Regions from separate parts of the Homo sapiens genome. Here region 2 is linked to region 1. The links come from fine-mapping of genetic effects on gene expression. A gene starts in region 1. The other region holds a variant in brackets. All regions are shown on one strand. Distances are from middle to middle. Region 1 holds the start of WNT10A (Wnt family member 10A). Region 2 overlaps CDK5R2 (cyclin dependent kinase 5 regulatory subunit 2).

Region 1 (2,500 bases):
AGGGAGGGCCAGGACAAGACTGAGAGTATCTGCGGGCACAGGCAGGCAACACTCAGTGTTGGGGAGGCAGCTGCTGCGCTGGGAGTCAGGAGAGCTGCGTTCGGTTCTCGCTCTTCCGCTAATTTGCTGTGTGACCTCTTTGAGCCTCGATATTTTCTTGTGAAATAAAGGGGAGCTAAATAAACTATCTCAACGGCCACTTCTAGGGTTAAAAGTCTCTCTAACGCCTCCTCCCAGGACGTGCCACCCCGGGCGCTCCTACGCAAGCATTTTCTGGGGGCCTGACACTGCTGCCTCCCCGGGCTCACTGAGGAGACAAGGTGGTCCCCATGAGCCGCATTCCGCAAAGGGGCAGAGGAGGTCTCCGTGAGCAGGAGCAGGAGGCACCTGTTTAAGGTCACACAGCAAAGGGGAGAAGAAACCAGAGGCTGCCAAACTCCTCTGCAGGAGCCCACACCTGCCTCACACCAGGCAGGCCTGGGGGAAGTCCCTCCTCTGGCGGAGGAGGCGAAACACAGAGGCCAGCCCCTCCCCTCCAGCCCCTGCAGGTGTGTGTGTTGGGGTGGGATGGGGGCGCTCCCCAGCAGCTGCGTCTCTGCCAGGCACACACACCTCGCGGTAACACATATCCCCCACACAACCCAGCGCGCTCCACACACAGGCATCTTCCTGTGCACGCGCGCACAGACCCCAACACCTTTCCCTCTGTTGCCCTCAGCAGGGACGCTCCCACCCCCAGTCCCCAGCGGACGCAGTGGCCTCGGGACTCGTACACGCCTCCACGCCCCGCCGCGTGACGTCACGTGGGGTAGAGCCCTGAGACACTAAATGGCGGGGGGGTGGGGGGAGGAAAGGGAAGGCGGCAGAGCTCCCCGAGCCGGGACAGTCACTTACTCTACAGGCAGTGGGGCCCGACACAGACAGCGCCGCCCCCGCCAGCCAGCCTCGCACGCCCTCGGAAGCGCAGGCTCCCGGCGCTGCGCTGGAGGGTTCCCCGGCACCCCAGCCTCCCGTCCCCAGCCCGCTGCACCTCCGGGCCCCCCTTACCCTTGAGAGGCACCGGGAGTTGTCGCGGGGGGGCCTCGGGAAATTCCCCGGACCCCTGTGCCAGGAGGTGCCCGGTTCGCCCGCTCTTCACCCCCCGCCCCCCCCGAGGGCGGTGCCCGGGGGTGCTGCCCCATGGAGCGGGGAGGCGGGCGCCGTCTGCTCCGGGAGCCCTGACCCGAGTCGGAGCTGTGTGTCGCAGCCGCCCCGACCCCCCGCCGATCATGCGCCGGCGCCCCTGGCTCTCCAGTCCCACTGGGCTGTGAGCCCCCCACTCCCAGCCCGTCAGGGCCTGCGCGCCATGGGCAGCGCCCACCCTCGCCCCTGGCTGCGGCTCCGACCCCAGCCCCAGCCGCGGCCAGCGCTCTGGGTGCTCCTGTTCTTCCTACTGCTGCTGGCTGCTGCCATGCCCAGGTGAGCCCTCACCTCATGCTCCGCCCTCCTAGAGAGTTGGGACCCCGGCCTGCAGGGGCCTCTGATGCTCTTGCTGGGGTAGAGGACCCTGGAAGAAGGGAGGGACAGGGTCATAGGAAAGTGCTGGTGCCCAACCAAAGGCAGTGAGCTCCCTCATAGGAGGGGGTTGGACTGGTGACAGGATATGGGCAGTCCAGGGAGACAAGGCAGTGCCCAGGAGCATGATGGCAACTAGGAGGGGAGGTGTGTGTGGGGGGGGAGCAAGTGCCAGTCTGGAGTTCCTGCCCTGTTGGGGGAATGCACCCCCACCTCAGGAGTAAGCACAAGCTGCCTCACTCCTTCCTGCAGCTCAGCCCCAGGTAGGGGCAGGGGTTGGGAGGCTGGAAGGGGGTAGCCCAGGTGGGGTCAGTGAGAGACTGCAGCTGCAAGAGCTGTGTGTGTGTGTGTGTGTGTGTGTGTGTTTTCAATCGAGCCCAGGATCCCAGCAAACTGTGTTGGTAAACAGTAGTTTGTATGTGTGCCCATGTGTGCATGTGAGAGCTCATGGGTCAATGTATGTTAAGATGAACACATGTGTAAATGGGAGTGTCTTTGTGTGTGTGTCTGTAACTATGTCTGATGAAGTGTGCATGTGCGTAAGTGTGCTGGGGTTGGGTTTGTGTGTCCACCACAATGTGTGCAGAAGTGTGTCTATGTGAATGTGACTGAAACATATCTGTGGGAGTGGGCTTGTGGGGAACCCTGTGTGTATGGGCATCTATTCCTGGGGATGTGCATAGGAAATACTGTGGCCACAAGCATGGTGGATGTGTGTGCATTTGCACGCTTACCTGTGTGGGTGTGCAGCTAGCTGAGTGAGTTGCACTGGGCAGGATGATTGTGAGGAGGTCAAGGAGAGAGGAATGTGTAGGAGTGTACTGATGGGCCCAACCTTCAGAAGCAGAGGTTGGAAGAGGGAGTGATTATGGCCGTTGGGACAGAGTGTGTGTTGTTAGATGGGGCTCTCCTGGTCCCCCCAAAACACGTACCCACTCCACCCCAT
Region 2 (3,004 bases), 81 kb after region 1:
TCTGGGCGACTTCGTGTGCCGACGCTGCTATCGCCTCAAGGAGCTGAGCCCGGGCGAGCTGGTGGGCTGGTTCCGCGGTGTGGACCGCTCGCTGCTGCTGCAGGGCTGGCAAGACCAGGCCTTCATTACGCCTGCAAACCTGGTGTTCGTGTACCTGCTGTGCCGCGAGTCGCTGCGTGGGGACGAGCTGGCGTCGGCCGCCGAGCTGCAGGCCGCCTTCCTCACCTGCCTCTACCTCGCCTACTCCTACATGGGCAACGAGATCTCCTACCCACTCAAGCCCTTCCTCGTGGAGCCCGACAAGGAGCGCTTCTGGCAGCGCTGCCTGCGCCTCATCCAGCGGCTCAGCCCGCAGATGCTGCGGCTCAACGCCGACCCCCACTTCTTCACGCAGGTCTTTCAAGACCTCAAGAACGAGGGCGAGGCCGCCGCCAGCGGCGGGGGCCCACCGAGCGGGGGCGCGCCCGCCGCCTCCTCGGCCGCCAGGGACAGCTGCGCGGCCGGAACCAAGCACTGGACTATGAACCTGGACCGCTAGGGATACCCAGGGGCCGCGCCCATCCCCCGCCCCAGCCCCTGACACACACTCGGACCCCCCGGGACCACAAAGCCACCGCCGCTGTTACCGCCGCTCAGCGCCCCGGCTGGGCGGAGGAGGAGACGCCCATGCCCCTCAGGGGAAAGTGGAGACCGGGACACCAGAGGCCGCGGTGTTTGGATTTGCTGGGCGTGGAGTGGGGACGGAAGATGAGCGCGGGAAAGGCACTCCAACCTCACTCTTCCCGTCTGTCTGCGCCCCCATTTCTCCATTTCTGCCGGGGTCTCCCCCTTCCCTTCAGCCCATTCCCCCTCGGTTTTATCCATTTCCTTGCCTCCTTTTTGTGTCTTCATTTTTCCTCCTGTCTGCATTCCTCTCTCTCTCTCTCCCTCTCTCTCCTGTTCCTCTCTTTCTTCCTCCCTCTCCCTGCCTTTCCATTTTCCGTTCCTTGGGTTTGTGTGTCTGCATCTCCATCTTACCCCTTGCCTGACTGTACCCCGTAGACCCCTGTTTCTCCTCCTGCACCTGTGTCCCCATCTGCCCTTCTTGTTGCTCCTGTCATGTGTCACCATCTTCCCTCCTGTCTGCCTTCTTCCTCCACTTGTGTCAGCTTGCATTTTTTTATTCCTGACTGAGTCACCACACCCCTCTCCCCTGATCAAAGGGAATATTAGTTTTTAATTTGGATCGACTGAGGTGCCAGGAGAAACTGCAGTCCCAGGTATCCAGACAGCCACCAGGATGGTCCCTCGCCCCACCCCCACCGCCTCTCCCCACCTTTTCCAACGTGTTGCATGCTGGGAGCTGGGGGGTGTGGGGGAAGGGGCTGCCGGCTTCTTTCAGGAGGCTGAGGTTTGGAGGCAAAATCAACCTGGGAGACCACCCCGGCCGCGGCGCCTCAGTGGACAGGTGGGAGGAAAAGAAA[A/G]CTTCTTACCTTGGAGGAGGGACATCCCGCTTCCTTATCCTTAGCTTTTTTGTTGCTCCTCCCCACTGCCCCTTTTAATTTATTTGGTTGTTTGCGGAGGGAGGGGGGAGGGGGGTAGGCTGGGCCGGGAACTGTCCGAGGTGCTGAGCTGGGGCGGGACCGGAATCCTCCCGGTAGGGTACCAGGGACTGAGTTGGGCCTGGGGCCGTGTCCAAGGTGCCAATGATGCGGGCCGACAGAGCGGGCCGCACTGTCTGTCTGTCCGTCTGTCCCGGAAAGAACTATAAAGCGCTGGAAGCGCCTGCAGATGGTTTTGCGCCGGTCTTTCTTTGGGCCCCGGGAGGGAGGGAGTGGGAGTGGTAATGGAACTGTCACAGACAGAGCAGAAAGGCAAGAGATGGGGCTCTAGTAGGGGAGATCAAGTACCTGAGAACTTCTCCTCCTCCCCATCCCCACCCCCGCCATCGGCTTCCATTTTACAGAGAGTAAAGAGTAAAGCGAGGCAGCTGAGGGTGAGGCCTGGTGATAAAGCTGAATCCATCCCCCCACTTCCGCCTCCATCTTGTCTGACCTAGCTCCTCATTAATGCCCGGGCCACTTAGAGACCGAATCATGGGGACAGCGGAGTTGTGCCCTTTCTGTGATGAGACCCATTGAGGCAGAACTAGCTAGTCCTTATTGCTATTTTTCCCTTCCTCCCCATCTCTCCCCACCATATATCGGTCAAGAGTACAGTCGGGCCTAAGTCTGTGTTCACCACTCCCAAGTGGGGCCTGTCTGCCATACTTCTCTCCTCATCCCCCAACCACCATGGGGCTGCTTCGACGATGCCCAGGTCGCACGCCCACTCAGGAGTCTTGGGGGGTCCATCCCTGCTTGAGACTCAGACCCTTGCCCTTTATCCCCAAGAAGGGGCAAACAAGGGCAGTTGGGGAGAAGGAAGCCATTCTCTGGGATTGAAACAGGAAGGAAAATGCGCTATTTAGCCTGAGATCCCTGCTCGGTCCCCATTGCCTTCTTAGCCACGTGGCTAAGCGCCCTGTTCACTGTTTCATTGGCCCAAAGAGGCCTGGCTTCAACAGAGTGCCCGCGGCTCCGACCCTAGTCTGGCCGTGGCCGAGAAGATCCGGAAAGAACCCGGGGGGACCTGCCAAGACGAGGCCCGGGTTCGCTGTCCGTGGTGCTGAATGGCGCGCTCGGGCGGGGTCGGGGCTTGTAAGGGCAGGAAGAGTTGCAGACTCGGCCTCAACTAGGTCTTCCGGATAATTTGGGAATAGGGTGTCATCTATTCTGGCGGCGAGTTATAGAAGTCTGGCTCCAGAACCCAAAAATGTCGGTCCCCACTTGCCCTCCCGGGACGACAGGACTCGATTCCCCTGGCCTCAGCCCAGCGCCCTTGTAACCTGCCTGGAGCCGGAAATCCCCAGTCCAGATTTGTGAATTGAGTTCCCGGAGGGAGGGGGAGAGCTGGCGGAAGGGAAGGCGGGAGCAGCCGCCCATTGGCTGGAATTTGGCGCAGTCAGCGCGGTGCCGTCATCTCT

The links.
Region 2: its variant is fine-mapped to the expression of WNT10A in whole blood (INTERVAL, PIP above 0.99).

The regions. Positions count from the first base shown.
Region 1 is chr2:218,879,651-218,882,150 of GRCh38, forward strand. WNT10A (Wnt family member 10A) reads left to right here and starts at 1,202. Exons shown (of 4, transcript NM_025216.3): 1 at 1,202-1,458. The coding sequence starts at 1,346. RefSeq lists silencers at 628-687, 908-1,117, 1,138-1,277.
Region 2 is chr2:218,960,387-218,963,390 of GRCh38, forward strand. CDK5R2 (cyclin dependent kinase 5 regulatory subunit 2) reads left to right here. Exons shown (of 1, transcript NM_003936.5): 1 at 1-1,769. The coding sequence ends at 538. Among named protein-coding and RNA genes, the nearest start is that of CDK5R2, 2.2 kb to the left of the region's middle. RefSeq lists an enhancer at 2,928-3,004. The variant A/G (reference allele first, on the strand shown) is at 1,464.